Regions from separate parts of the Homo sapiens genome. Here all the other regions are linked to region 3. Evidence: fine-mapped expression QTL. A gene starts in region 3. Each other region holds a variant in brackets. All regions are shown on one strand. Distances are from middle to middle.

Region 1 (6,152 bases), 150 kb after region 3:
AGTTGAAGGAATTGTCTCCATCTTCTCGTTGTTCCATCTTCTCCCTTGACCCATTTGGTGAGCTCCAAGGCCAGATCCAGGCAGGGCCCTAATAGGTGAGGTCTGCCTATCCAAAGGATGTGGCATGGTCTAGGTCTGGGCCCAGTGTGGCCCACTGAATTTGGACTCTCTTCCCCCACTGGCATGGCCATCCAGCCTGGGGGCCCTTGGCCTCATCCAGATGTTAAGAAGACATTTGTCCTAGAATCAGAATCAGAGTCAGAAGAGGCCTCAGAAACTATCCAGTCCACCCCTCTCATTTTGCAGAAGAGGCAGTAGGGACTCAGAGAGGTTAAGTGAATAGGATGAAAGTCACACAGTGCTGTGTGGCAGAATCATGTTTGTTCTCTCTGTGTCTTGATGTCTTTTCACCCCTGGGAGGGTCAGGGGCCGTAGGTGGTTGGGTCCTGTGTGCAGGGGCTTTATATGTGAATTGTGTGAGACAGTGTGTGTCACTGGATTGCTAAGTGCCTATGTGTGTCAGTGTGTCACTGAGCATGAGTGTGTCTCTAGTGAACCCTGTGAGACAATTAGTGGTGTGAGTGTGTCCCCATCTGTCTGTGAGATGCAATGGAATGCAGGGTAGGAGCCTCTCTGGGGAAGTTGAGAAGCCTGACTGCCACTCCTGGCCCTGCCTCAGATTCTCTGTGTGACCTTGAGTGGTTACTTCCCTGTCCTGGGCCTCGGTTTCCTGAAATGTTACTTGAGGGTTGGGTGTGATGGGTACTGGCTGACTGTGTGTGAGGTTCTGACTCAGGGAGCAGCTCTGTGTCTGCCTCATCCCCAACATAGCTGTTTCTTGAGATTTGGGCCTTCCACATTGGGTGACTCATGTCAGGGCCTGGGTGGGCTTGGACTCCTCTCTCCCCTTGGAGCCCCTGTCCGTGGTACCTTTGCTAACAGCCCTCCTTTTTCTTCTCTCTCTGCCTCCGTCTTCTCCGAACCTCGCTGGCTGCAGAGGAGCACCCCATGGAAGGTGAGTGAAGCCTCTCTGTCACTGGGGTAGTGGATCTGTTGCCATGGGGATCCTACATGAGGGACTGTCGTTGGCTACCCAAGGACTCCCTTTCCTGCCATGTTTAGGGCCTCTCCGGAGAAGGATGTCTGGGGTCCTCCCTTGGCTGCCTTGCCCCACTCTCTTGCGTCCCCTCTTCATGAGTTTCGGGGGAGCTGCTGACTGGCCTTTCTTCTTCCTTTCCCTCTCCACGCTGGAGAGGGAAAGGGAAACTTAGGGAAGAGATGAGCGGTGGGGGTGGAGGGATGGGGCTGACAGGATTCCGAAGTGCCCAGAAGTGAGTGGGTAGACAACGTTTAGCCCAGCCTAAGTTAGGAAGCTTAGAAAGGCAATTTTCCAGATGCTGGGGCAGGCTGGGGTGGGCTGTTGCCCCAGAAACCTGTGCTTGGGGAAAATCTGCCCTGGAATCTGGTGCCACTGTGCAGGGCTCAGGGGACTGGAGGGTGGTGGAGTGCACTGGCAGAGTAGGGGGTTGGAGGTGTATAGTGGGAGCAGCTTCTCTGCCCCACTGTGACCAGCACTTGCCACTTGCGGCAGGCCCCTAGCTGCTGCCCCACAGGTTGCTAGGTAGGGGTGGGCTGCTTCTTCCTTCATCCAGGTCGGAGGGCAAGGGTGGGGTGTGTGCCTCTCTCTCAGGTCTCTCTGTATGTTCTTTCTTTATCTCCTGTTTTGTTGGCCTCTTCTCCCTCTCCAGTTTCTGTCTTTACCTCCTTTTCTCCAAGACTCTGTCCCTGGACCATGTGTCTCTCCTTCCCCAGGCTCTCTCTGGGTTTCTGTCATTCTCTGAATCTTTCTCTTGCAATTTGGCTTTCCCTGTTTCTTCTCCTCCTCTGGGATGGACTGAGAGCAGGAAGAAGGTAGTCCTGGCTTGAAGGCTGTGTTGAAGATGAGCTCACATAGCTACCATGAAGAAGGCAGCAGAGCAGGCATGAGGTGGCATCCCAGTCCCTTCTCCTGGGAAGGTGGAGTGGGAGGGCAAGGGCGTCCCTGGGGAGGAGGAGAGGAAAGTGCCAGGGATGCAGTAGTCCTGGGAAAGAAAGGCAGCAAGAGGCTCTTGGCCTGAGTGTGGGGCTGGAACCCATTTTTCCTCGTGATGTCCATGGTCTGACTTGTCTCTCTTGGATGTCTCTTTTCCCTGGGGGTCCTCAGGTCCCCAGGGCCCAGCAGGCAGGTGTGTGTGTGTGTGTGTGTGTGTGTGTGTGTGTGTATGTATGTATGTGTGGGTATGTATGTCTGCATACACATACATTTATACAACTCTGCTGGTCTGTGTGTCTGTGTGCACGCCTGAGGATATATGCTGTGTACACGTAACATGGTTTTGTGTCTGAGTGCATGGGTGTGCTGTGCGCCTCCATCGATGCATATGTGGTGTGGCCCACATTTCTGTATGCCTATGTAGAGCATCAGCATCTTTGTGTGTCTGCATCTGTGTTTGCATCTCCGTGTGTCAGTGTTTACCTCTGCGTGTGTGTCACAGAGAGAGTCTGCGTGTCTGGGTGGACGCAGCCTTCTGAGGGCTGGAGATAAGATTTAGTGTTGATGTGACTTTTACTTGCTCTTGATGTCATGTCTCCTCCGGAACAAAGGGTGAGATGGAGGGAGGAAGAGAGAAAGGGAAAAAAGGGTGGAGGAGAGAAAAAAGGAGGGAGCAGAGAGATGGAGGAAGGAGAGGGGGTAAGTGAAGGGTGGGAAGAGAAAGACTCAAGCCTCAAGCTGTAGGGGGTGGGGCAGGAACGGGGAACAGCTTGGCCAAAAGAAGAAAGGCAGGGGGGCACTTGGGAAGAAGGAGTCTGGTGGGAGTAGGGAAGAGGAAAGGGGCTGATAGACAGGAACAAGAAGGGAAGCTGGGCTTTGGGGACCCATGGGGAAGGAGGCCTGTGGACGCCACCTCGCCATTTCTTTGGGTGGCATGGTGGTCTGCTGGTTTAGATGTGGCACTGTGGATGCCTGCATGTCAGTGGCTGTGCAGGGCTGTGTA[T/C]TGGAGGCTGTGTGTGTGTGTGTGCGCGTGTGTGTATACACACCTAGGAGTCTGACACATCTCTGTGTCACTCTGAGACATGTCTGTGTGCCTGCTTGTGTGTCTCTTAATTTGGTCACCTATCACCATCTTTATTTCGATGGTGGTTCTCTCTGGGGTTTCAGTAGGAGAGTTAGGGGATGAGACTGAAGATGGGGAGGTGGGTTTAGCAGGTGGTGGTTCCACGTGGCTGGGCTGGCGGCCTCCTCTGTGGCACTGTGCTCTGGACCCTGCAGCCCTCCTTATATCTCTAAGGAGTCCTCTGTACCTTCGCCTTCTTCCCACTTGACACTGTGCCTGAGGCCTAGCTTTCTCCAGGAACCCCAAGATCCTGCTCTGCACCCCTGCCGAACACCTCCTTTTTCCTCCCAGCCTCTAGTGGCAGGGCAAAGAGACCCAGAAGTAGCCAGATAAAGTGCCCTAGGAAGGGACCCATGGCAATGCCATCCATCATTGCCAGTCTCTTTTCCAGCAGTGGGAGGAGGGGCTGATGCCACAGGTGGATGTGGGGAAGTGAATACCCCAGTGGGGCTGGGGGCCAGGAGGAGGGAGCAGAGATTTCAGATTAGTGGGGAGACAGACTTTAGGGAGAAAACCCTGGGGCCAGCTGGGACTGAGCCAGGGGTAGACAGGAAGGGAACCAGCCTCCCCTTCACCAAGATGGCTGGTGCTGTCACGCCTGAGGGAGCTGAGCAGCTGGTTGCCGTGGTGACAGAGGGAGACTGCCGAATGCTAACGAGGCTGGCGAGGAGCTGGGCAGTGGAAGGGTCTGGGAGAGGGAGATGTGGCTTCCTCCAGCAGCAGTCAGGCCTGTGGGAGACAGAGGGTGGGTTCACAGGGCACCTGGCTCCTGGGCTGGGGGTGGGCAGAGACCTGGATTCTCAAGGGTGGGATCCTGAGAGCAAGGCTGCTTCTGACCGGGAGAGTCGGATGTGGGTTGAGGGCTCTGGGTCTGGGTCCTGGGTTTAGGGGGTTTGGAAGGAGATGCTGGTAGTTTTTGGGGAAAGGGTTGGTGGCAGAGTAGGAGGGTATTCAGAGTAAGGAATGAGGAGACTCGGTTCAAATGCTTGGGTCCTTACCTGTGTGATGGATAAAAACCTACATCCTCCCAAGAGCTGTTCAGTCCTGAGGCTGCCCTCAGCGGCTGTGGCCTCCTCCTCCAAGTGGCCTCAGACTCAGAGGTGGGGAGAAACCAGTGCCACCCTAGAGACATGGGGCAAAGAGGGCAATGTGAACCATCTGCCACGGGGTCCAGGCCTTTGGCCCCTGGCCATGTCCTTCCTGTCCTCCTCACTGCCTTTCCTCTTAGAATCCAGGCATCCTGGCCCCCAGCTTCGTCTCAGAAATACTTGTAACTCTTTAACCTTGCTACTTCCATCCTGGCCCCAGCTTTCTATCCCTAGGGTTCACATCTCATTGCCACAGCAGTGGGGCTGGTTTCCAAGGGTGACAGTGGCACTGCAGGGCTGTTCCCCTTCCTACCCTCTTGGCCAGACACCACAGGGGAGTGAGTGGGGCTGGGGGGGCTCTGAGGTTTGGTGGAGCTGGCTGGCCATCTCAGGAAGCCCTGGGGTCTCAGCCCAGCTGTGGGGCCTGGTGCTGCCAGCCTCTCTAGGAGAGAGCTTTCCTTGGCTGGTGCCTGTTGGGGACAAGGGTACTGATCCAGTGGGCCAGATTCCTTCCCACTAAGGCTGGGGAGGGGTACTTTGGGTTAGGGCTGACAAGGCTGTCTCAAGGGGCCAGTGTAATCCTGGATGGAAATCCTAGCTGGTCTTCCTATCAGTCCATTTTCTATTTTCAAAATCCAGCTTTTGGGTCATTTGAGAGAGGTCCTGGTCAGAGAAAGGGGGTCTGTAATTTATGAATGATGTACTTGGACCTTTCAGAGAGCTGGGCTTCCTCCCATAGGGCTCGGCTGTCCTCTTTGGACCTTGCTGTCTGAGAGCTCTGACCCCAGTCTCTCAGTGTCTCTGTAGATTCTACCTTCTCCTACCTGCTTCCTCTCTAATTTTGTCCTCTTGAACCCCAGTTTCCTCTTAGAACCCAGGTGTGCAGGGTCCCTACTACCCCTACAGAGGTTATTGGGAAGGGTAGCTGGGAGGATTAGAACCCAACAGGTGTCCTTCCAAACCCCGCTTTAGTGGGGGATGCTTTTAGGCCCAGGTTCTTTATATCCCCCCATCTTTCCCCCTTTTCTACCAGCATCCTAGGGGTAACTGGGATTAGGGGTGTTGGGGGGTTGGAGGCCCCCTTGCCCGCTTAATCCCATGCTAACAGGACACTCTCTCTCTCTCCAGGTGGCTTTGATTTTTGTGTCGTGTTTTATTTTCTCCTCCATCTGAATCGTTTTTCTCGTTGACTGTTTTTTTTTCTCTCCGCCTCCCGGAAGAAAAAAAAAAAGAAAAAAAGAAAAAGGAAAAAGCAACCCTCCTAGCCTAATGCTTCTCCTCCTTTTCCTTTTTTTTTTTCCGGCAAGAAGAAAAAAAGAAACCAAAATCTCCTCTCCCCGCTGCAGTGCCCCCCGCCCCCTCCTTCCTCCAGTTCTGCCTGTACCCCTCTCACCCTCTCTGACGCCCCTAATCTCTCTTTCTCTCTTCCCCTGTTGTGCCCTCCACCCGCTGTTTCGGCATCGGGCCCCTCTCCTCAGCTCCTGGGCTGGGGCTCCCCCCGATGTCTGTCACAAGTTAAAAAAGGTTTTTAAATTGTGGCAGCAAAAGCTTTTTTCTCCCTTCTCTCTGGCTGATTTTGATGACTCGTGTTTTCTTTGTTTCTTTCCCCTTTTCTTTCTTTTTTCTTCTTCTTTTTTTCTTTCTTTCTTTCTCTCCTTCCCCTTTCCAAGGTCCGGCTCACCTGACGTTAAACAGCGAAGGTATGGTTTGAAGTTTTGGTTTGGTTTGGATTGGATTGCCCCCAACCTGCGCCTGGATTTTCTGTTCTTCTCCCTGTCCTTCCCCTGTCCCCTTCCCCTCCTCCACCTGTCCTGACACCTTCCTTCCTTTCCTACCCGCTTCCTTTGCCATTTCTTAATTTTATTTGGGGGGTGCTGGGGTGGGGGTGGGGGCTTGCCCTTGTCTGTGT
Region 2 (6,152 bases), 420 kb before region 3:
GCTTTTCCACTACCCTACTTGACCTTTCACACTGGGATCCAACACAGAACTGAATTATTCAATTATAGTATAAAACTATGAAACTATTCAAAAAGGGCAATTATGGAGAAATTATGTTTATAGAAATGTTTTATGTTGTGCTGAGAAAAGCAGGATAACTATATGTTTATAAGGACTGCCATTATGTAAAACATTTAGACATATGATCAGAAAGGAAGATGTATAAGTGGAAATATAGTAGGAAATGCATGAGAGTGGTTGATTTTTTCCCTCAGATCTTCAAATGTTGTGAAACTATTTTAAAATGTTACTTGTAAAATGCAATGTCCAAACACTGTTTACTTACCTTTGAAGGTGTGGTGTAAGAGTTCAAGAGGATTTCCTCTTCTTCTTCCACTTCAATTCTAAGAACACTGGTTAAGAAAAACAATAATGGCTGGGCACGGTAGCTCATGCCTGTAATCCCAGCACTTTGGGAGGCCGAGATGGGCGGATCACGAGATCAGGAGACAGAGACCATCCTGGCTAACACAGTGAAACCCCGTCTCTACTAAAAAAAATACAAAAAATTAGCCGGGCGCCTGTAGTCCCAGCTACTCGGGAGGCTGAGGCAGGAGAATGGCATGAACCCAGGAGACGGAGCTTGCAGTGAGCTGAGATCACACCACTGCACTCCAGCATGGGCGACACAGCGAGACTCCATCTCAAAAAAAAAAAATAATAATAATAATAATAAACTTTCATATAAGGCAAGGGCTGATTGCTAGAAGAAATCTCAATATTAGGCAATTTTTACTATTATTATTATTGAGATGGGGTTTCCTCGTCGTCCAGGATGGAGTGCAGTGGCCTGATCTCAGATTACTGCAACTTCCACATCCCAGGTTCAAGAGATTTTCTCACCTCAGCCTACCAACTAGCTGGATCTACAGGCGTACATCACCACACCCAGCTTATTATTATTATTTTTTAATTTGTACTTTGGCCGGGCACGGTGACTCACGCCTGTAATCCCAGGACTTTGGGAGGCCTAGGCAGGCGGATCACCTGAGGTCAGGAGTTCGAGACCAGCTGGCCAACATGGTGAAACCCTGTCTCTACCAAAAAAAATACAAAATTATCCAGGTGTGGTGGTGTGCACCTGTAATCCCAGCTACTCAGGAGGCTGAGGCAGGAGAATCACTTGAGATTGGGAGGCAGAGGTTGCAGTGAGCTGAGATTGCACCATTGCACTTCAGCCTGGGCAAAAAGAGCGAAACTCCAACTCAAAAAAAAAAAAAAATTTGTACTTTTGATAGAGACAGGGTTTCACCATGTTGCCCAGGTTGGTCACAAATTCCTGGGCTCAAGTGATCTGCTTGCCTCGGCCTCCAAAAGTGCTGGGATTACAGGCCTGAGCCACCGTGCCCGGCCTTATTATTTGTTTTTAAATTACACATGCGACTACAGACAAATTATAAAATACAACATGTAGCTTGGTGCAAAGACCTTCAGCAGAAAAGGATACAGCTCTTGAATGGAAACAATGTCTCTAGCTCCTGCATGGCCACTGTCCTTGCAGGTACTATGCCTGGCTTTCGATAATCTTTTGCTCAGAAACTGAAAAAGAAAAGATAGTGAATACAGTACTTCATAGTCAAGTAATAGCAGAGGTGTTTTCAAAAGCCTTGAGATAATAAAAGGTATTCAAAATATAATCAAAGATCTAACATTCCTCAAAGAATTAAGATACACACAGACTAAAAACAAAGACATCCCATGACTGTCTATAACATATAACAATCCTAATAATACCAATTATTTGGTGAAGACTTATCACCTGCTGGGCATAGTTTTAAGTGCTTTATGTCCATTCTCATTTCTTTTTTTTTTGAGATGGAGTCTCGCTCTGTCCCAGGCTGGAGTGCAGTGGCGCAATCTCAGCTCACTGCAACCTCCACCTCCTCGGTTCAAGCGATTCTCCTTCCTCAGCTTTCCGAGTACCTGGGATTACAGGCGCCTGCCACCATGCCCAACTAATTTTTGTATTTTTAGTAGAGACAGGGTTTCACCACGTTGGCCAGGCTGGTCTTGAACTCCTGACCTTGTGATCTGCCTGCCTCGGCCTCCCAAAGTTCTGGGATTATGGGCATGAGCCACGGCGCCCAGCCCCATTTAATTCTTATAACAATCATAAAAAATACAGATTATTAGACCCAATGTCAGAAAAGGAAACTGAGGCTCAGGGACATAGTTTGTCCAAGCTCACACTGGGACTGGAATCCAGGCCTGACTCGAAAGCCCACACTCCTCTCAATATATCACAATGCCTCCCCTGTAGAGCAGAAATGGAGAATCACATTATTAGTTTGCTTTCATTTTGTTCTTACCTCATGCTCAAAAGAGTTCAGGATCTCTGAGGTAAGGCCAACTTTATGTGTGCTGGTGCAGAAGGCTATAAGCTCGCCTACCATTCCCTCCTCATTCTGTCCATACTGAACACAAAGCTCTACCACTGTAGAAAGGAAAATTGGACAAGTAAAAACTTAGTTCATTTCTCGAAGTTTCACCTAGAAAAGCAAAAATAATCCTGGTTTACTCCATCAATGTTTATTCAGAATCTATTAGTGCCAGGCACTGTTTTGGGCAATGAGAAAACAGAAGCATCCTTGTCCTTACAAAGCTCACCACTGAGGGGAGACAAAAGAGGATAAGGGCAGAATCAGGGGGACCAATTAAAGAATCATGGAAAAGCCCAGGTGAGAGATGATGGTGGCTTGGATCAAGGTGGTGGCAGTGGAGATGGCGAGAAGTGGCTGGACTCTGGATAGGACTTTACATGCTGGAAGTGAAGCCAGTGGGATCTGCTAACTGAATGTAAGGTATGAGAAAAAGAAAGTCAAGGATGATGCTGATATTTTTAGCCTGTGCAACAGGAAGAGTGGCGTCCCTATTAACTGAGATGGGGAAAAGAGCCAGAGGAACTACTCTGAGGAGAGAGAGGAGATACCAGGAGCTTAGTTTTAGACATGCAGAGTTTGAGGTGCCATTTAGACATCCAACTGGAGACAGCAGGCTGAACAAACCAGCCTGTAGTTCAGGCAAGGGTTGTGGGCGGAGGTATAAATTTGGGAACCATCAGTAAATACATGGGATATAAAGCTATGAGACCCCAGGTGAGATCGCCAAGGGAGTGAGCGTATCTAGAAGGGAGAAAAGATCCCAGGCTTGAGTCTTGGGGCGCCTTAGGGCCTCTGAGGATGAATCGGCAAAGCCTGAGAAGCGGTGACACAAGCAAAGCTGAAGAAAAACTAGGAGTAAGCCGGATGCAGTGGCTCACGCCTGTAATCCAGTATTTTGTGAGGTTGAGGTGGGCAGACTGTTTGAACCCAGAAGTTTGAGACCAGCTTGGGCAA[C/T]AGGGTGAAACCGTTTCTATAAAAAATACAACAATTAGGTGGGCTTGGTGGCATGTGCCTGTAGTTACAGCTACTTGGGGGCTGAGGTGGAAGGATTGCTTGAGCCAAGGAGGTTGAGGCTGCAGTGAGCTGTGATTTGCCCATTATACTCCAGCCTGGGCAACAGAGCAAGACCCTGTCTCAGAAAAAAAAGAAAGAAAAACTAGTAGTGTCTAAGAAGCTAAAAGAAAAATGTGTTTAAAAAAAGAAAAAATGACAAACAGTGTCAAGTGCCGGTGCTAATTCAATTCAAGATGAGGACTGAAAATTCATCACTGGTTTTAGCATGGTGAAGGTCACTGGTGACCTTGAGTAGAGCAGCTTTGGTGAAGTGGTGGCAACAAAAGAACTTACTGAAATGGATTTAAGGAGGAAATATTTAAAGATGGCAAGGCCCCCCCCCTTTTTTTTTTGGAGACAGAGTTGCACTCTGTTGCCAGGCTGGAATGCAGTGGCACGATCTCGGCTCATTGCAACCTCCACCTCCCCGATTCAAGCGATTCTCCTGTCTCAGCCTCCCAAGTAGCTGGGACTACAGGCATGCGCCACCATGCCCAGCTAATTTTTGTATTTTAAGTAGAGACCGGGTTTCACCACGTTGGCCAGGATGGTCTCCATCTCTTGACCTTGTGATCCGCCCTCCTCCGCCTCCCAAAGTGCTCGGATTACAGGCGTGAGCCACCGCACCCGGCCGACCCTTTTGAGGTCTGCTGTAATTGGGAAGGAGAGAACTGGAGTGGGAAGTAGGGTCAACAGAGTATTTTAAAGGCAAGATTGGAAGCACATTTCTATACTAGTAGGAAAAAAATCTTGTAGCAAGGAAAATAGAAAATATGTAAGACAGGAGAATTACCAGTGATGTCCTTAATTGCTTCAGAAGGAATGGGGTTTAGGACTCAAGTGGAGGACTTGGATTTTGCTAGGAATACGGAAAGCTTATTCATTATAATAGGAAAGAAGGCTAGGTATATGCCACAGATATGGGTCAGTGAGACATAATGGTGGTAGCTGATCGAAGTTTTCTAATGCTTCTACATTTTTCAGCAAATAATAGAAATTTGTCAGCTGAGAGTGAGGGTGGGACAGAAGGATGTTACAGGAGAAGGTGGAAAACAATCATCTGGAAGACTCAGAGTAAAGAGACCAGGGGCCTGGCGCAGTGTAATCCCAGCACTTTGGGAGGCCAGGGTGGGCGGATCACCTGAGGTCAGGAGTTGAAGACCAGCCTGGCCAACATGGTGAAACCTTGTCTCTACTGAAAATACAAAAAGTAGAACAGGTGTGGTGGCTCACACCTATAATCCCAGCACTTTGGGAGGCCGAGGTGGGAGGATCACTGGAGGTCAGGGGTTCGAGATCAGCCTGCCCAACATGGCGAAACCCCATCTCTACTAAAAATACAAAAAATTAGCCGGGCGTGGTGGCGGGAGCCTGTAATCCCAGCTACTCGGGAGGCTGAGGCAGGAGAACCGCTTGAACTCGGGAGGCAGAGGTTGCAGTGAGCCAAGATTGCACCATTGCACTCCAGCCTGGGCAATGAGAAACTCCATCTCAAAAAACAAAACAAACAACAACAAAAAAAACAGGGAAATACGGTTGACTGTCAGGAAACATTAAGGTGCCACTGAAGTTACTGATGATCCAAAGTCCACAATTCCAAAGCCATTGCCATGAGATGAAAGCAACTGGCATCTTGGCCTGAAGCCTTTACAAATCTGGTTCACATAACTAATTTCTCTCATGCTGATTTCATGCTTACCACATACATTTCTGACTATGATCAGGTTTTCCACTTAAGTCTTTTTTTTTTTTTTGAGACAGAGTCTCGCTCCTGTTGCCCAGGCTAGAGTGCAATGGTGTGATCTCGGCTCACCACAACCTCTGCCTCTCATGTTCAAGCGATTCTTCCGCCTCAGCCTCCTGAGTAGCTGGGATTACAGGCATGCGCCACCACGCCCGACTAATTTTGTATTTTTAGTAGAGACAGGGTTTCTCCATGTTGGTCAGGCTGGTCTCAAATTCTCGACTTCAGATTATCCACCTGCCTTGGCCTCCCAAAATGCTGGGATTACAGGCGTGAGCCACCACACCTGGCTAGTCTTCTTTTAAAAAGAGAAGGACCGAGCCTGCTGGCTTATGCCTGTAATCCCAGCACTTTGGAAGGCCAAGGTGGGTGGATCACTTGAGGTCAGGAGTTCGAGAGCAGTCTGGCCTACATGGTGAAACCCCTTCTCTACTAAAAGTACAAAAAAAAATTAGTCGGGCCTGGTGGCGGGCGCCTGTAATCCCAGCTACTTGGGAGGCTGAGGCAGGAGAATCGCTTGAACCTGGGAGGCGGAGGCTGAAGTGAGCCGAGATTGCACCACTGCACTCCAGCCTGGGTGATAAAACAAGACTGTCAAAAAAAAAAAAAAAAAAAAAGAGAGAGAGAGAAGGCACTGGGCATGAAGACTTGAAGTATTCTGGTTTCTGAAAGGAATTTCTCACCATAAATTAACGTTTCGTTATCTTTTTGTATATAAGAAGTTCAAAGTGTTGAGTGGTTAAGGCAGGTGCACATTCATACCGATTCTAGAACTTCCACATCTCCCAGGCTTTGCTTCAAATGACTCCTTACACTGCTCTACAGCTTGACCAACACGATGGACCCGTATGATGCAGCACGGGACTCCAAGGCAGGACACCTGGCTTCACAGACAGCTCAGGCAATTAGCTTTC
Region 3 (6,152 bases):
CTCCTCTGGTCTCTGGCGCCCCCGTGTGGCCTCAGTGAGCAAGCCCCTTCCTACCTCCTGTGGGCTCCACCCCTGCCCCGCCCCTATAAGGAGGGCTCAGAATCTCTCAGGTGAGAGGGATCTGAACTCCTGCCCCCTCCCCCTTCCAGGAGACCAGAGGCAATGAAGGGGATCCCCAGAGTTTGGTTTGAATCCTGGCTCCCCATCCCATTCTGGTTGATTTAGGTAATACACCCAGACTCTGTTTCCCCAAACATTTCTCAGCCCATGGGCCCTGCGTAGCTACAGGGCGGGCCTCTGGGGAGATCACATGGGAGGCAGGGCGAGTCTGAGACCAGCCCCGGGCAATGTAGAGAGACCCCAGCTCTAAAAAAAAAATTAAAAATTAACCAGGCGTGGTGGTGCAGGCTTGCGGTCCCAGCTACTCAGGAGGCTGAGGTGGGAGGATCACTTGAGCCCAGTATGTTGAGGCTGCAGTGAGCTGAGATTGCATCACTGCACTCCAGCCTGGGTGACAGAGCAAGACCCTGTCTCAAAAAAAGGCTGGGTATGGTGGCTCATGCCTGTAATCCCAGCACTTTGGGAGGCCGAGGTGGGCGGATCACCTGAGGTCAGACCAGCTTGGCCAACGTGGCAATATAGTGCAACCCTGTCTCTTTAAAATAAATAAATAAATAAACAAATAATCACATGAAAAACCCTTCGTGGGGAGAAACACCCTGTTTGCTTCAAACATTCATGGAACACCTCCTCCCTCAACCTGATCCTGCCCCCATCTCAGCGAGGTCCCAGTACGAGAGGAGAGGCAAACCCCTAAACAGGTCTTTTAATGAAATAATGTGTTGGCCAGTGGCTACAGCCTGTAATCCCAGCGCTTTGGGAGGCTGAGGCAGGCAGATCACTTGAGTCCAGGAGTTTGAGATCAGCCTAGGCAACATGGCGAAACCCCATCTCTATAAAAAATACAAACATGGCTGGGCCCAGTGACTCACGCATGTAATCCCAGCACTTTGGGAGGCCGAGGCAGAAGGATCACCTGAAGTCAGGAGTTTGAGATCAGCCTGGCCAACATGGCAAAACCCTATCTCTACTAAAAATACAAAAATTAGCTGGGTGTGGTGGCACATGCCTATAATCCCAGCTACTTGGGAGGCTGAGGCAGGAGACTCTCTTGAACCTGGGAGGCAGAGGTTGCAGTGAGCCGAGATCGTGCCACTGCACTCTGGCCTGGGTGACAGCGTGAGACACCATCTCAAAAAACAAAACATCAGCCTGGCCTAGTGGTGTGAGCCTGTAGTCTCAGCTATTCGGGAGGCTGAGGTGGGAGGATCACTTGAACCCAGGAGGTTGAGGCTGTGGTGAGCTACGATTGCACCACTGCACTCCAGCCTAGGGGACAGAGTGAGACCCTGTCTCAAAAAAGAGAAAGAAGTGTTGTCTAGGCCGGGTGTAGTTGCCCATGTCTGTAATCCCAGAACTCCGGGAGGCCAAGGTGGGAGGATTACCTGAGCCCAGGAGTTCGAGACCAGCCTGGTCAACATAACAATAACCCTTGACTCCAAAAAGTAAAATAAAAAATCAGCTGGGTGTGGTGGCATCTGCCTGTAATCCCAGCTACTCAAGAGGCTGAGGCAGGAGCCTAAGAGGTCAAGGCTGCAGTGAGTTATGATTGCATCACTGCACTCCAGCATGGGTGACAGAGAGACCCTGTCTCAAAAAAAAAAAAAAAAAAGTGTTGTCTGAAGCCACCAATATGTCCCACCCTTTGATCTCTCCTCATGGTGCCTGGTCCATCCCAGCTGGACAGAAATCAGAAATACCACTGGACAGAGCCAGCCCCTCCCCTCCCCAACCTCCTCCAGCCTATCTCAGACCTCTCCTTGCCCTTCACGTTCCAGGTCAGACCTCAGGCCCTGCTCCTACTGAAGCTTAAAACGCCTGTGGTGTTGGTACCAGCCCAGCTCCACCTCCACCCCAGGGTCTAACTTAAGAGCCACCTTGTCCTCAGCCCCTCAATTCGCCTTCCTCCTTCCCAAGCCTCAGTGTGTCCATCTGCCAAATGGGCGTGACCATCCCTACCCCAACTTCCTGTCTCCCACATCAACTCTAATGATACAATCAAAGTAAGATTCAGAAACTTTTTTTTGGGCGGGGGCGGGGGGGCGATGGGTGCCAAGCGCGGGCAAACCATGGAGAGAGCGAACTACAATTCCCATCCGGCTCCGGGGCCGCGGGCGTCCCTAGCCCCTCTCTCTTAGCCAAGGGCAAGGCGGCTGCGACCCAGGGGGCGAGAGAAGTTGCAGTGCTCCGCGCCTCCTGGGTCAGGGCCCAGGGAGGGCCCAGGTAAGTCTGGGTCTGGGGCCGCGCGGGGATCTGGGGAGTCTTTCCGACCCCGCAGAACCCCACCGCGCCCCGCGCAGAAGTCAGTTGTTCTCCCCGGCCCGCCCCCGCACTTCCTGGCCGGGAGTTGGGCCCGCCCCCGCGCGCCTCCGCCCCCACCTTCACCTCTAGCCGCGGCTCCCATTGGCCGGCGCGCACCTGCCCGTCCGTCGGGGGGCGGGGCGCGGCGCCCAGGTGAGGGCGCGCTGGCGGCGGCGGAGGAAGGTGACAGCGGGGAGGGCGGGAGAGGGGCGGGGGAGGACGCGCGGACAGAGCCTCAGACGGTTGGGCGGACGGACGGCCCGACAGGCGGGCATGCGGGCGGCCAGACTGTAGCCGAGCAGCGAGGCTCCGGCCGCAGCCATGGAGCGGCGGCTGCGCGCGCTGGAGCAGCTGGCGCGGGGCGAGGCCGGCGGCTGCCCGGGGCTCGACGGCCTCCTAGATCTGCTGCTGGCGCTGCACCACGAGCTCAGCAGCGGCCCCCTACGGCGGGAGCGCAGCGTGGCGCAGTTCCTGAGCTGGGGTGAGTGGCGGGGCGGCACGGAGCGGGGGCGGGCCTAGGGATATCGCGCCGAGACCCCCGCACCCGCAGACTTTCCCGCAGGGACCCGCACCCCCACGGGCTTCCCTCGCAGACTCCCTGCAGTGGCCCTGACGCGTACCACCGGACCCCCGCGGCCCGCACACTCGCCTGCACACCTCACCCTCACTCCAATTCTCACACACGCTCTCTCCCTCTCACAGACCCCGACACATGCACACACATACCAACTTGTGCTCAGGTATCGACCGCAGACGCATGTACCCAGTGCACCGCCTAGAGTCCCTTACAGATTTCCTTGCTTACAGGCCACACCTGACGCAGGACACACACAGACCCTCATGCATGTCACCCACTGATACACGGGCTCTGTTTCTCCTTCCTCTCGGATGCATTGAGACACACAACTCATGGAGAGACCCAGGGAGCGCTGCAGACCACCCCGACCGCATTGGCACTGCAAAACACACAGATCTGTAGGTATCGCACACTTGCAGACCTTCCCCCCACCAACACACACACCCCCAGCTCCCTGGGTACAAGACCACTGCAGCCTGGACTCAGGAACCGATCTCCAACCCTTGGCCTGTGCAGGCTGCTGGCCAAGCTCCTTGGGGGCTGTGGCGCCGGGGCCGGGGAGGGGGGCCTAGCTGGAGATGGGTCTGTACCTTTCCTGGTAGACTCATCTGAGTCATTGGGAGTGGCTGGCCCGGGGTGACCCTGAACCCACTGTGGGCACTGGCGCCAGCTGGAGGGTTCCCTGGTCACACCCTGCCGGGCCATGGGGAAAAGGCACGGGGGCCTGGCCAGGGCGGGGTGAGGCAGGTGTTTGCCCAGTGGGCAACTAGCGTTCCTGGCACTCCTGAGCTCTGGGAAGGCACAAGGCCTGGGGTAGAGGGGGAGGCTGCCACCTAGATGTGCCAGGGAGTTGTCCCCTAGCCCCAACCCTTCCATCCAGGGCGAGGCAGTCAGAGGCCCCTGCCTCTGTGCCTGTCTCCCTGGTATGCCTCCGTGCTATGCCTGTCTGCCTGTGTTGTTGTCACCCCCCCCATGACACCCACACACGTGTGTGTGTTTGCACACACATGTGTGCTCCTCCCTGACTGCCTCCAGCACCTCTGCCTGGGACCCCGGCATGGGGGCCCTCTGTTGACAATCTCCCAAGGTAACTCAAAGGGCTGTGACTCATTCCTCTCCTGCTTGTCTCTACTTGTCCCTGCTCCTGCCCGGAGCCCCCATGCCCTGTGGGAGGCCAGAGGATTAGGCAGCCTGTCCAGGGGCCTGGATCCTCCTGCCTGTGGGCCTGGGCTTCGGCCCTCTTCTGGCGGGTGGGTCCCTATGGTGCTGGCTTCAACTCCCACGGGGAGGCCCGGGGCTGCTCCTCCCCAGCTCCACACACAGACCTGGGAAAGAGACAATGAATTTCTGTAATGAGGTTTCCACCCCGCCCCCGCTGCGGGCTTCTGCCTGATAAACCTGTGGAACAGCTCTCTGTCCCACCCACAGACCCGCCCAGCTGGCAGGGAGTTTACCTCCTGGCAGGGGGAAACTGAGGCAGGGCGCCAGACCACAGCTGCCCCCCATCCTGACTGATCACTCCTGCCTCCCTAAGACCCAATTCCTTCCCAAAACCTGGGGCTAATCCAGGCCTGGAAAGTGCCTGGGAGTGGCTGGAGTTGCCCTTCCTGGAGGTATCTGGGATGTGAGGAAAGAGGACGTTCTTGACCAGACAAAAGCTTCGTCCAGACAGGGAGGCAGGGCTGGGAGTGAGAGAGCCGGTCAGGCCTGGAGGCATCCTGAGCACTCACGCCTTCAGGGGCTAGTGCTAGCACCAGGGAAAGGCATCTTTGTCCTGTTTGTGAGTCTCAGCACCTTGGCAGACTGGCATCCATGCCTCCAGCCTGAGGGGCCCCACGTGGGAAGCATAGAGCCTGTCCTCCCTGCCCTAGGGGCTGCAGGCCTCACCCCCAACCAGGCACCTCTATGCCTACAGGGTCCCGGGACCCAGGCCCACAGCTCCTGAATGGGAGAGAAGCCTCTCTGGGGATAAGGAATGTCACCCGTCCAGTTTCCTAAGACAGGCCCTGGCCTGAACCTGTGAGGGGGCCAAGAACTGTGAGGTGGGGGTAGGAATGGTGTCCCCATGGTCCCCAGGGTGACCTGGCCAAGCAGAGTCAGGCCGCAGACTGGGCAGGACTACAAGTCCCATCAGCCCCTGGGATGGAGGCTGCCTAGAGTCTGGGGCCAGGGGTCCAGGGAGGTCCAGGGACCAGGCGGTCAGCTGAGCCCGGCCTCTGACCTTCCGCACTTCCTGATCATGGCCAAAGGAGCACCAGTTCCTGCCACAACCCCTTGGCCCGAGGCTGTCCCTGGGGAGGTCATCCCTGCCTGGGCTCACAGGAGCGGCAGCTCCTGGCTTGCCCAAGGTGAGAGGGGGAATGGAGCCCTCCCTCCCTGCACTCTGAGTCCCGCCCTGTGTCCCCTCAGCCAGCCCCTTCGTATCAAAGGTGAAAGAACTGCGTCTGCAGAGAGATGACTTTGAGATCTTGAAGGTGATCGGCCGAGGAGCCTTTGGGGAGGTGAGCAAAGGGCCTGGGGTAGGTGGGGGGAGGTGTTCACACCGGGCTGGGCTCACCCCGGTCCTCCCTGTGGCCTTAGGTCACCGTGGTGAGGCAGAGGGACACTGGGCAGATTTTTGCCATGAAAATGCTGCACAAGTGGGAGATGCTGAAGAGGGCTGAGGTCAGTGTGGAGTCTGGGGGGCCCTTGGGCACCCTACAAATGGGTGTGGGGGAGGTGTATGCTGCCAGGGCCTATGGCGCGGGGGGGGCGGGCAAGGCTGCAGACCAGGCAAAGGGTGCCACCCTCAGCAGCCACTGATTTGTTATCTTTCTCACAATAAACCCTTTATTTAATTTTTTAAATTTTTTTTTTTTTTTTGAGACGGAATCTTGCTCTGTCAACTAGGCTGGAGTTCAACGGTGCTATCTTGGCTCACTGCAACCTCCGCCTCCCAGTTCAAGTAATTCTCCTGCCTCAGCCTCCCGAGTAGCTGGGATTACAGGCACCTGCCACCACACCCAGCTAATTTTTGTATTTTTAGTAGAGATGAGGTTTTGCTATGTTGGACAGGCTGGTCTCGAACTCCTGACCTCAGATGATCCTTCTGCCTTGGCCTCCCGAAGTGCTGGGATTACAGGCGTGAACCACCGTGCCCAGCCTACAATAAACT
Region 4 (6,152 bases), 830 kb before region 3:
CTCATATCTGTAATCCCAGCACTTTGGGAGGCTGAGGTGGGAGGACTGGTTGAGCCCAGAGCCAAGGAGTTCAAGATCAGCCTGGGCAACAGAGCAAGACCCCATTTCTAAAATTAAATAAAAAAACAGAGAAAGAATTGAGATTTTTTAAATTGTGGTTAAATATATATAACATAAAATCTACCATGTTACCCATTTATAAGTGTGCCACTGAATGGCACTTAGTACATTCACACTGTGTGCTACCATCAATCACCACCATCCTGCTCCAGAATCTTTTCATCATCCCCAACATAAACTCTGCATTTGTTAAGCATTAACTCACCATTTCCCCTTCTCTCCAGCTTCTTGTAATGGGTATTCTACTTCCTTTCTCTATGAATTTGACTATTGTAGGTATCTCACATAAGTAGAATCATATAACATTTGTCCTTTTGTGTCTGGATTCTTTGACTCAGCATGTTGCCTTCAAGGCTCCTCAATACAGCATGTATCAGAATTCCCTTCCTTAAGGCTGAATAATATTCCCTTGCATGTATATACCACATTTTGGGGTTTTGTTTTGTTTTGTTTTTGAGATGGAGTCTCACTCTGTCACCCAAGCTGGAGTGCAGTGGTGTGATCTCAGCTCACTACAACCTCTGTCTCCTGGGTTCGCGCAATCCTCCTGCCTCAGCCCTCCAAGTAGCTGGGATTACAGGCGTGCGCCACCACACCCAGCTAATTTTGTATTTTTTTTTTAGTAGAGACAGGGTTTCGTGGGGTTTCACCATGTTGGCCAGGCTGGTCTTGAACTCCTGGCCTCAAGTGATCCACCTGCCTCGGCCTCCCAAAGTGCTGGGATTACAGGCATGAGCCACCGTGCCCGGCCGCATTTTTTTAATCCATTTGCATTAATCCGGGATCTCCAGAACAGAACCAAACAGATACAGATATAAGAGGCGATTTATTATGGGAATTGGATGACAAAGTTATGGAGGCTGAAAAGTCCCACAATCTGCCATCTGCAAGCTGGAAGACCTGGAAAGCCAATGGTGTAATTCATTCCAAGTCCAAAGACCTGAGGACCAGGTGAGCCAATGGTGTAATGTCTCGGAGTCTGAAGGCCTCCAGGAGCTCTGATGTCTGAGAAGTTGGATGTCCCAGCTCAAGAAAGGAGAGAATTCACCTTTTCTTCACCTTTTTGTTCTATTTGCGCCCTCAGTGGATTCGATGATGGCCACCTATGTTGGATAGGGTGGATCCTTTTACTCAGTCTGATTCAAATACTAACCTCTTCCAGAAACACTCTCACAGACATACCCAGAAATAATTTTCTACCAGCTATCCGGGTATTCCCTGGGCTGGTCAAGTTGACACATGAAATTAACTATCACACTGGTCATGCGTCAATGGACATTTGGGTTGTTTCCGCCTTTTGGCTATTGTGAATAATGCCGCTATGAACACTGGTGTACAGATATCAATTTGAGTTCCTGCTTTCAGTAGTTTTGAGTACTATGAAATTTCTGGATCATGTGTTAATTCTGGTTTAATTCTTTTGAGGAACCGCCATACTGTTTTCCAGAGCGACTGCACCATTTTACATTCCCACCAGCAATTCACAAGTGTGCCAATTTCTCCACGTGTTCTCCACATCTCCATATTTCTCAGCAAACAGCTGTTACCTTATTTTTCTGATAACAGCCATCCTAATGGGTGTGAAGTGGTATCTCTTTGTGTGTTTTTTTTTGTTGTTTTTTTGTTTTGTTTTGTTTTGAGATGGAGTCTCGTTCTGTTGCCCAGGCTGGAGTGCAGTGGCGCGATCTCGGCTCACTGCAAGCTCCGCCTCCCGGGTTCACACCATTCTCCTGCCTCAGCCTCCCGAGTAGCTGGGACTACAGGTGCCCGCCACCATGACCGGCTAATTTTTTGTATTTCTAGTAGAGATGGGGTTTCACCGTGTTAGCCAGGATGGTTTCGATCTCCTGATCTCGTGATCCGCCCGCCTCGGCCTCCCAAAGTGCTGGGATTACTACAGGCGTGAGCCACGGCGCCCGGCCTATTATTAGTTCTTTATATGTTCTAGGTATTAATCCTTATCAGATATGTAATTTGAAATATTTCCTACCATTCTGTGGGTTGATTTTTTACTTCAGTATATTGTATTTGATGTACAAAAGTTTTTAATTTTTATAAGCCTAATTTATTTTTTTCTTTTGTGGTCTGTGCTTTTATGTTGTATCCAAGAAATCACTGCCAAATTCAATGTCATGAATATTATACAACATAAATGATAACATATAAACAATAAAAACGTAAATAATAACATATAAGCAATCAAAAACATGGGGCACTATGTTTTTTTCTGAGTTTATAGTTTTAGGTCCTACATTTAGGTATTTGGTCCCTTTTTAGCTCTTTATTTTATTTATTTTTTTTTTTGAGACAGAGTCTCGCTTTGTCGCCCAGGCTGGAGTACAGTGGCGCGATCTCGGCTCACTGCAAGCTCCACCTCCCAGGTTCACGCCATTCTCCTGCCTCAGCCTCCTGACTAGCTGGGACTACAGGCACCTGCCACCGTGCCCGGCTAATTTTTTTTTGTATTTTTAGTAGAGACAGGGTTTCACCGTTTTAGCCAGGATGGTCTCGATCTCCTGACCTCGTGATCCGCCCGCCTCAGCCTCCCAAAGTGCTGGGATTACAGGCGTGAGCCACCGCGCCCGGCCCCAGTTCTTTATTTTTTTGAGACAGCGTCACACTCTGTCGCTTAGGCTGGAGTGCAGTGGCATGGCTCACTGCTGTGAACTCGAACTCCTGGGCTCAAGCAATCCGTCTCAACCTCCTGAGTAGCTGGGACTACAGGCATGCACCACCATGCCCAGCTAATTTTTTTCTTTTTTTTTTTTTTCTTTTGTAGAGATAGGATCTCACTATGTTGACCAGGCTGGTTTCAAACTCCTGGGCTCAAGTGATCTTCCCGCCTTGGCTTCCCAAAGTGCGGGAATTACTGATGTGAGTCACCAGGTCCAGCCATTTGAACCATTTTGAGTTAATTTTTGTATATAGTGTTAGGTAAGGGTCAACTTCATTCTTTTGCATGTGGATACCCAATTTTCCCAAAACCATTTGTTGAAAAGATTGTCCTTTCCCCCAGTGAATGGTCTTGGC[G/A]CCCTTGTTGAAAATCATTCAGCCGTATATGGAAAGGTTTTATTTTTATGGGCTCCCTATTCTGTACAATTGGTCATATGTCTGTCTTTATTTTTTTTGGAGACAGAGTTTCACTCTTGTTGCTCAGGCTGGAGTGTAATGGCTCAATCTCGGCTCACTGCAATCTCCACCTCCCGGGTTCAAGCGATTCTCCTGCCTCAGCCTCCCAAGTAGCTGTAATTTCAGGCATGGGCCACCATGCCCGGCTAATTTTGTATTTTTAGTAGAGACGGGGTTTCTCCATGTTAGTTAGGCTGGTCTTGAACTCCTGCCTCAGCCTCCCAAAGTGCTGGGATTACAGACGTGAGCCACCACGCCCGGCCTATATGTCTGTCTTTATGCTAGAATCACACTGTTTTGATTACTGTAGCTTTGTAGTAAGTTTTGAAATCAGGAAGTATGAGTCCTCCACCTTTGTTTCTTTTTTTTAAGATTGTTTTGGTTATTTGGGTCCCTTGAGACTCCATATGGACTTAATTTAAGAGTGGACTTTTCTATTCCCTCAAAAGAAAATCAAGATTTTTGACATGGGAGAAACATGTAAAGTGACTAAGGTTAAGTTAAAACCCTGTAATTCTAGCTGGGCGCGGTGGCTCACACCCGTAATCCCTGCACTTTGGGAGGCTGAGGCACGTGGATCACGAGGTCAGGAGTGTAAAACCAGCCTGGCCAAGATGGTGAAACCCCGTCTCTACTAAAAATATAAAAATTAGCCAGGCATTGTGGCAGGTGCCTGTAATTCCAGCTACTCAGGAGGCTGAGGCAGAGAACTGCTTGAACCCACAAGGCAGAGGTTACAGTGAGCCTGGGCAACAGAGCAAGACTCCATCTCAAAAAAAAATAATAATAATAAATAAATAAAATTTAAAAACCCTATAATTCTAAATTTGAATATGAAACATTAGTATGAACTCCTGATGCATTTCGTATTTAAAAAAAATTACAGCCAGGTGCGGTAGCTCACGCCTGTAATTCCAGCACTTTGGGAGGCCAAGGCAGGCAGATGACAAGGTCAGGACAGGAGATCGAGACCATCCTGGCCAACATGGTGAAACCCCGTCTCTACTAAAATACAAAAAAATTAGCAGGGTGTGGTGGCGCGTGCCTGTAGTCCCAGCTACTCAGCAGGCTGAGGCAGGGGAATTGCTTGAACCTGGGAGGCAGAGGTTGCAGTGAGCCGAGATCGCGCCACTGCACTCCAGCCTGGCGAATGAGCAAGACTCCATCTCAAAAAAAAAAATTACCAGCTAGGCTGGGCACAATGGCTCATGCCTGTAATTCCAACACTTTGGGAAGCTGAGGCAAGAGGAGTGCTAGAGCCCAGGAGTACAAGATGAGCCTGGGCAACATAGTGAGACCTCTTCTCTACTAAAAAATAAAAAATTAGCTGAGCATGGTGGTGTGTGCCTGTAGTCCCAGCTACTGGGGGACCTGAGGAGGGAGAATCACTTGAGCCTAGGAGTTCGAGCCTGCAATGGGCTATGATCACACCACCACTGCAATCCAGCCTGGATGACAGAGCAAGACTCCCATTTTTTAAAAAATTACTGGCTGGGCATGGTGGCTCACGCCTGTAATTCCAACACTTTGGGAGGCCGAGGCGGGCAGGTCACTTGAGGTCAGGAGTTGGAGACCAGCCTGACCAACATGGAGAAACCCTGTCTTTACTAACAATACAAAATTAGCCGGGCGTGGTAGCGCATGCCTGTAATCCCAGCAACTCGGGAGGCTGAGGCAGGAGAATCACTTGAACCCGGGAGGCGGAGGTTGCAGTGAGCCAAGATCATGCCATTGCACTCCAGCCTGGGCAACAAGAGTGAAACTCTGTCTCAAAAAAAAAAAAAAAAAAAAAAAGTACTAACTATTCACCGAAAACATCTACAATGACTGACTCAGTAGCAATAAGTATCCGAAGTACTCAAGCTGTAGTCTTTAAATATCATTTCCTACTAAGAGAAATCAGGACTCCTTGGAAAGCTGTCTGATTCCAGATCTGGGGCAGAAAATTTACTAGATGAGTCTAGAAATATCTTTTCAGGCCAGGCGCTGTGGCTCATGCCTGTAATCCCAGCACTGTGGGAGGCCAAGGCAGGTGGATCACCTGAGGTCAGGAGTTCGAGACCAACCTGACCAATATGGAAACCCCATCTCTACTAAAAATACAAAAATTAGCTGGGCGTGGTGGCACACTCCCATAATCCCAGCTACTTGGGAGGCTGAGGCAGGAGAATTGCTTGCACCCGGGAGGCAGAGGTTGCAGTGAGCCGAGATTGCACCATTGCACTCCAGCCTGGGCAGTAAGAGCGAAACTCCATCTCAAAAAAAAAAAAGGAAAAAGAAAAGAAATATCTTTTCATACCAAACAGCAAAGAAGCTATCACAGGCTACTGTAATTGCTTTTTTAAAATTATTTTTTTAATAGACATAGGGATCTTGCCATGTTGACCAGGCTGGTCTTAAACTCCTGGCCTCAATCAGTCTTCCCCATTCAGCCTTCCAAAGTGCTGGGATTACAGGTATGAGCCACCAAGACTCATATATTGGAATTGTGTCAAAAGGACTGAAGAACAACCAACTTGAAGAAGTTCTCCCTAACCAAAGACGAATAATTTGAATTTCAATAACTATACTTGATTAAAACACAGCTAATATATTTAAATCCATGCATTCATTAAGATTTTAAAAAACTCAGCCGGGTTTGGTAGTTCATGCCTGTAATCCTAACACTTTGGGAGGCTGAGACAGAAGGATCGCCTGAGCTCAGAGGTTCGAGACCAGCCTTGGCAACATAGCAAGATCTTGTGTCTACTAAAAATTAAAAAAAAGAAATTAGCTGAGTGTGGTGGTGCACGCTGTTAGTCCTAGCTACTTGGGAGGCTAAGGTGGGAGGATTGCTTGAGCCCAGGAGTTTGAGGCTGCAGTGAGCAACGAGTCATGCCACAGCATTCCAGCATGGCGACAGA
Region 5 (6,152 bases), 630 kb before region 3:
ACTGGCATTAGGCACCAAAATGTCTACAAATGTAATCATTTATCATGACCTATGTGGCTAGTGTGGTCCAAGTTACCCTTAAGCTCCCTCTTTAAGGTCCATAAATGCCCCTAAGGAAAATCCCTAAGTCCTCTAGCTGAGGCGCCCCTCTGCACTCTTCTGTAGTGCTTTTTCTTTTTCTTTTAATTATTTTTATTTTTTTATTAATTATTATTATTATTTTTTTTGAGATGGAGTCTTGCCTCACTCTGTCTCCCAGGCTGGAGTGCAGTGGCCGGATCTCGGCTCACTGCAACCTCTGCCTCCTGGGTTCAAGCGATTCTCCTGCCTCAGCCTCCCAAGTAGCTGGGACTACAGGCAAGTGTCACCACTCCCAGCTAATTTTTGTATTTTTAGTAGAGACAGGGTTTCACCATGTTGGCCAGGCTGGTCTTGAACTACTGTCCCCAAGTGATCCACCCGCCTCGGTCTCCCAAAGTGCTGGGATTGCAGGCGTGAGCCACCGCGCCCTGCCTTGGTAGTGTTCTATATAATGAAACTTTCCTTTTCAAACCTACACTGCCCTCCGTAGTGCAAACCGAACAGCCAGTGCTGAGGCGCAGAGACGCCTCAGGCACCAGGTGGGAGCAGGCAGGAAAGGCACGTGTGCGAAAAGGGAGGAAAAGGGGACGGAGAGCTCACTGGCCAGGGGAACGGAGTCGGTGACAGAAAGGGCTGCTGGCCGTGTGGGGTGTGTGGGCTGTGTGGGGTGGGGTGTGTGGTGTGTGTGTTTTGCGTATTTTTAATAGAGACCGGGTCTGGCCAGGTTGCCCAGGCTGGTCTCAAACTCCCCTTCCCGTCCTGGAACCCCTTGGACTCCCCAGTTCGTAAGGCCAGTGCAGAGATCCTGGGGAGGGAGAAGCAGGGCCAGCTACCACCGCCCTTCCGCTCCAGACGGTCCCGCAGATTGGCCAATCCCGGCCGCCCAGCCAGATGCTTCCCGGTGACTCAGCGCCCGGCGTGTCACGTGACGGCGGGTGGGCACCCGCGCAGGGGCCGCTGGGAGTCCCGCGCTGCCTCCCCTGCCCCCGCGCCGGGGCCACGTCCCCCAGCCAGGTCCCTTCTTCCTGCCGTGTCCCCAGGGCAGGACCGCATCGGAGAGAGTCCGGGAGGAGGCCGCGCTCCTGGGGGCTGGAGACCCGGCGGCGGTGGCCACTGCGCGCTGTTCCAGCCTTGAGGGAGGGAACCGCGGGCCTGGGTCCGCCTTGGGATTTGGGAACCGGTTTCCTGCCGGGTTGACCTAACTTGAGCCTTCAGTAGTTCCGGGGCGGGTGTTGTGGTCTCCGTTCCAAAGTCGGGAAAACGGTATCTGGGCTGGCGAAGGGCCGCGAGGGTGGTGGGAGGACCCTGTGGCTGCGCCGAACAGACCGCGGGAACCCACACTGAGTGGGGTGGGACGGGCTGCCACCCCGGCTTTGTCAGCCCCATGCCCCCTTCTCGCCCTTCATCCTCTGCTCCCTCACTTAGGCTCCAATTCCTCCTGATTTTGTTCTGTTTTTCCCTTCGGGCATCCAAGGCAGCCACCTGCCCAGGCCTGGGCCTGTTCAAACACTGTCTCCGCTGTACTCCCTAGCTCCTTGAACCCCTACATTGTCTGCATTCAGGAAGTTTTGTGGCTTTTTAGGATTTTTTTTAAACACAGGGTCTGGCTCTGTTGCCCAGGCCGGAGTGCAGTAGTGTGATCATAGCTCACTGTAACCTCGAACTCCTGGGCTCCAGCCATAGGAAGCTTTTAATAAAACAACCTTTGCTCCGACCGCACCCTGGCCTTGCTGGATAAAGCCAGGCCTCTCTCTTGGGTTACAGCAGGCCCTTCAGGACTTGGCTGCCCCTCTCTGTTCCAGCTTCTCCTGATGTTCCTCGCTCACCCCAGAACTCCTTTCCCAAAACTGAGGGAACTCCAGCTTGTCCTTAAGATCTCAGCTCTGCCCAGTGGTCTCCTTAGACTGGGTGTGAGGGTCCCGCTGTGGACTCCCTGAGCTTAGGGAGAGGGCAGATTTGTTCCTGCTCTCTCAGGCCCAGTTTAGGCCTCAAGACAAGAGCCCAGGTTGTCTCCTCAGAGCTCAGAATGCTGCCACCACGTGTGGTCAGACCACTATTGGCCCAGCTCTAACCAGTAACTGGAGCAAGGCTTAGGATTGCTGAGAAAGATTGGGGGCAGCAGAGAAGCTTCTAAGAAAAGGTTAAATAACACACCTCTTTTTCTTGTTGTTGTTTTTGTTTTTTTGAGACGGAGTCTTGCTCTGTCGCCCAGGCTGGAGTGCAGAGGCGCGATCTCGGCTCACTGCAACCTCCGCCTCCTGGGTTCAAGCGATTCTCCTGCCGCAGCCTCCCAAGTAGCTGGGAGTACAGGCATGTGCCACCACGCCCAGCTAATTTTTGTATTTTTAGTAGAGATGGGATTTCACCATGTTGGCCAGGATCTCGATCTCCTGACCTCGTGATCCACCTGCCTTGGCCTCCCAAAGTGCTGGGATTACAGGCATGAGCCACCGCGCCCTGCGGATACTCCTCCATTAAGAAAAACATATTGGCCGGGCGCGTTGGCTCACGCCTGTAATCCCAGCACTTTGGGAGGCTGTGGCGGGTGGATCACGAGCTCAGGAGATCGAGACCATCCTGGCTAACATGGTGAAACCCGTCTCTACTAAAAATACAAAAAAAATAGCCGGGCGTGGGCCGGGCGCGGTGGCTCATGTCTGTAATCCCAGCACTTTGGGAGGCCGAGGCGGATGGATCACAAGGTAAGGAGATCGAGACCATCCTGGCTAACAGTGAAAGCCCGTCTCTACTAAAAATACAAAAAAATTAGCTGGGCATGGTGGCTGGCGCCTGTAGTCCCAGCTATTCGGGAGGCTGAGGCAGGAGAATGGTGTGAACCCGGGAGGCGGAGCTTGCAGTGAGCTGAGATCACGCCACTGCACTCCAGCCTGGGCAACAGAGCGAGACTCCATCTCAAAAAAAAAAAAAAAATTTGAAAAGGCAAAATGAAGACCAGTCCGAAAAGGTGGCCATAGGATGACCTTTGGGATTCTCTAGGCATGGCACCTCTCTGACTTATTCACCATTGATGAGGCTGGGCTCTGATGAGTAGATTGATAAGATATAGCTAGCTTCTGTCAGGTAGAAAAGATGACCCAAGATAATGGGCTTATTACCCTGCAGCGCAGCAGGTACTTTTGGATGTAACTCAGCAATCTTATTCCAGCATTGCTTTTTCAGTGCCTCTGAGTATTTCAGTCTCTCCAGTTCCCTTTGAACTAGTGTTTCCACCATTATAGTTTCTTAACACCTGAAGTAACCTTTGGTACATACATTAAAGACAGTCATGTTTATAACTTTGGAAATTATATCCTGTGACACATTTGGAGACTGTCTCACCAAGATGTCCAATTGGTTTTGGCTGCCAGAGCCAATTACACTTTGTTGCACGTGACATTTGCCTCATAGGTTCACCTGCCTCAGGCTTCCTGGCTCCATCCTGTGACTTATTATTTTTTTAATAATACCCAAGTACAGCTGGGTGTGGTTGCTCACACCTGCAATCCTAGCACTTTGGGAGGCTGAGGGGGGG[T/GT]GGATCACCTGAGGTCAGGAGTTCAAGACCAGCCCGGCCAACACAGTGAAACCCTGTCTCCACTAAAAATACAAAAATTAGCCAGGTGTGGTGGTGGGCGCCTGTAATTCCAGCTACTTGGGAGGCTGAGGAAGGAGAATCGCTTGAACCCAGGAGGCAGAGATCTTGCAGTGAGCCGAGATCACACCACTGCACTCTCGCCTGAGTGACAGAGGCAGACTCCGTCTCAAAAACAAACAAACAAATAATACCCAAGTACATGGGTATTTTCTTTTAAAATTCAAACAGTAAAGTTAAAGTTGGTTGGACAATCACCTCCCATCCTAGGCCTGTTGTAAAGTTGACTACTGGCCAGTCACGGTGGCTCACACCTGTAATCCCAGCACTTTGGGAGGCCGAGGTGGGCAGATCACTTGAGGTCAGGAGTTTGAGACTAGCCTGGCCAACATGGCAAAACCCTGTCTCTACTAAAAATACAATAATTAGCCAGGTGTGGTGGCATGCACCTGTGGTCCCAGCTAATGGGGAGGCTGAGGTGGGAGGATTGCTTGAGCTCGGGAGGCAGAGGTTGCACTGAGCAGAGATGCCCCATTCCACTCCACCCCAGGTGACAGAACCAGACCCTGTCTCACAAAAACAAAAAACAAAACAAAAAAAATGGTAGTATATGGGACCACTGTCACATATGTGGTCCATCATTGATGGACATGTCATTATTCAGTACATGACTATGTATGTATATATACACATACAAACATTTATAATGTGCTTGTGAATGTGTATATATATTCATATCACACACATGTAGATATATCCTAATATATGTATAAATAGTATATACATAATTGAAATACATCATTTTAATGGTTCAAGAACAGCCTAGGCAGCATAGGAAGACTCCATCTTGCCAAGACATTTAAAAAAAATTGGCCGGGCGCGGTGGCTCACACCTGTAATCCCAGCACTTTGGGAGGCCGAGGCAGGCAGATTGCCTGAGGTCAGAAGTTCAAGACCAGCCTGGCCAACATGGTGAAACCCCATCTCTACTAAAAATACAAAAATTAGCCAGGCGTGGTGGCAGGCGCCTGTAATCCCAGCTACTCGGGAAGCTGAGGCAGGAGAATCACTTGAACCTGGGAGACGGAGGTTGCAATGAGTGGAGATCACGCCATTGCACTCCAGCCTGGGCGACAGAGTGAGACTCCATCTCAAAAAATAAAAATAAAAATTAGCTGGGCATGGTGACGTGGGCCTGTAGTCCTAGCTACTCAGGAGCATGAGGCAGGAGGATCCCTTGAACACAGGAGTTTCAGGTTACAGTGAGCTACGATTATGCCACTACCCCACCCCCCCAGCCTGGGCAACAGAATGAAACTTTCTTTAAAAATTAAAAATTAAAAAACTAAAAAGGGAGAACTATTTTGGGACATGAGTCCTACCTACCTCACTCTTTTTATTGTTTTGGTGTTTATTTTCTTTAAAAAAGAAAAAAACAACAACAAAAACAGGGTCTCGCTGTCTCTCCCAGGCTGGAATGCAGTGACACCATCCTGGCTCACTGAAGCCTCAACCTCCTGAGCTCAAGCAATCCTTCTGCCTCAGCCTCCCAAGTAACTGAGACCACAGGCACGAACCACCATGCCTGGCTAATTTTTAAATATTTTGTGTAGAGATGGGGTCTTGCTATGTGACTCAGGGGGACCTCACTCTTTTTGTTTTTTGGTTTTTTGGTTTTTGTTTTTTGAAACAGTCTTGCTTTGTCACCATGCTGGAGTGCAGTGATGCAATCTCGGCTCACTGCAACCTCCGCCTCCTGGGTTCAAGCAATTCCCCTGCCTCAGCCTCCTAAGTAGCTGGGACTACAGGTGTGCACCACCACACCCGGCTAATTTTTTGTATTTTAGAAGAGATGGGATTTCACCATGTTGGCCAGGATGGTCTCGAACTGCTGACCTTGTGATCCACCCGCCTCGGCCTCCCCAAGTGCTGGGATTACAGGTGTGAGCCACTGTGCCCAGCCACTTTGTAACTGCTAACATGGCAACACAAACTATAAAATACCTATGAATAAATTAAAGGAATGTGCAAGACTTTGTGTAGAAATTTATAATTTTTTTTTTTTTTGAGACAGAGTTTCGCTCTTGTTGCCTAAGCTGGAGTGCAATGGCATGATCTCAACTCACTCCAACCTCCGCCTCCCAGATTCAGGCGATTCTCCTGCTTCAGCCTCCCGAGTAGCTGGGATTACAGGCGCCTGCTACCATGCCCGGCTAATTTTTTGTATTTTTAGTAGAGATGGAGTTTCACTATGTTGGCCAGGTTGGTCTCAAACTCCTGACCTCAGGTGATCCGCCTGCCTCGGCCTCCCAAAGTGCTGGGATTACAGGCGTGAGCCACCGTGCCCAGCCAATTTGTTGTTTTTAAATAACCTTGTTTACAACTTTGTAATATTGATAAATTTTATAAACAATGAGATGTATGAGGCAAAAAGTGAAAGCACACACACACACACACACACACACACACACACACACACACG

Direction of the effects. Alleles are on the strand shown, and positions count from the first base shown. SD is a standard deviation of normalised expression in the study named. Not every link is listed here.
As copies of T replace C in region 2, the expression in esophagus mucosa of the gene that starts at base 2,659 in region 3 goes up (moderate effect, 0.66 SD a copy in GTEx).

Evidence for each region.
Region 1: its variant is fine-mapped to the expression of CDC42BPG in whole blood (TOPMed, PIP above 0.99).
Region 2: its variant is fine-mapped to the expression of CDC42BPG in esophagus mucosa (GTEx, PIP 0.93).
Region 4: its variant is fine-mapped to the expression of CDC42BPG in whole blood (TOPMed, PIP above 0.99).
Region 5: its variant is fine-mapped to the expression of CDC42BPG in subcutaneous fat (GTEx, PIP 0.98).

What each region holds. Positions count from the first base shown.
Region 1 is chr11:64,692,638-64,698,789 of GRCh38, reverse strand. It overlaps NRXN2 (neurexin 2), which reads left to right. Exons shown (of 23, transcript NM_015080.4): 3 at 998-1,015; 4 at 5,914-5,943. Among named protein-coding and RNA genes, the nearest start is that of NRXN2, 27 kb to the left of the region's middle. The variant T/C (reference allele first, on the strand shown) is at 3,036.
Region 2 is chr11:65,262,924-65,269,075 of GRCh38, reverse strand. It overlaps POLA2 (DNA polymerase alpha 2, accessory subunit), which reads right to left. Exons shown (of 18, transcript NM_002689.4): 2 at 2,370-2,494; 3 at 1,508-1,599; 4 at 347-404. Among named protein-coding and RNA genes, the nearest start is that of POLA2, 4.0 kb to the right of the region's middle. The variant C/T (reference allele first, on the strand shown) is at 3,396.
Region 3 is chr11:64,841,160-64,847,311 of GRCh38, reverse strand. CDC42BPG (CDC42 binding protein kinase gamma) reads left to right here and starts at 2,659. Exons shown (of 37, transcript NM_017525.3): 1 at 2,659-2,902; 2 at 5,408-5,499; 3 at 5,579-5,662. The coding sequence starts at 2,743. RefSeq lists silencers at 74-163, 2,480-2,829, 2,840-2,889, 2,920-2,969 and enhancers at 3,184-3,996, 4,021-4,315, 4,809-5,621.
Region 4 is chr11:65,666,494-65,672,645 of GRCh38, reverse strand. It overlaps RELA-DT (RELA divergent transcript), which reads right to left. Exons shown (of 4, transcript NR_183625.1): 4 at 928-1,223. Among named protein-coding and RNA genes, the nearest start is that of RELA-DT, 6.6 kb to the right of the region's middle. The variant G/A (reference allele first, on the strand shown) is at 3,151.
Region 5 is chr11:65,472,425-65,478,576 of GRCh38, reverse strand. It overlaps ENEMAL (enhancer lncRNA neighbor of NEAT1 and MALAT1), which reads left to right and starts at 1,090. Exons shown (of 1, transcript NR_186313.1): 1 at 1,090-1,800. RefSeq lists enhancers at 777-866, 702-1,297, a silencer at 1,037-1,166 and a cis regulatory region at 6,069-6,152. The variant T/GT (reference allele first, on the strand shown) is at 3,614.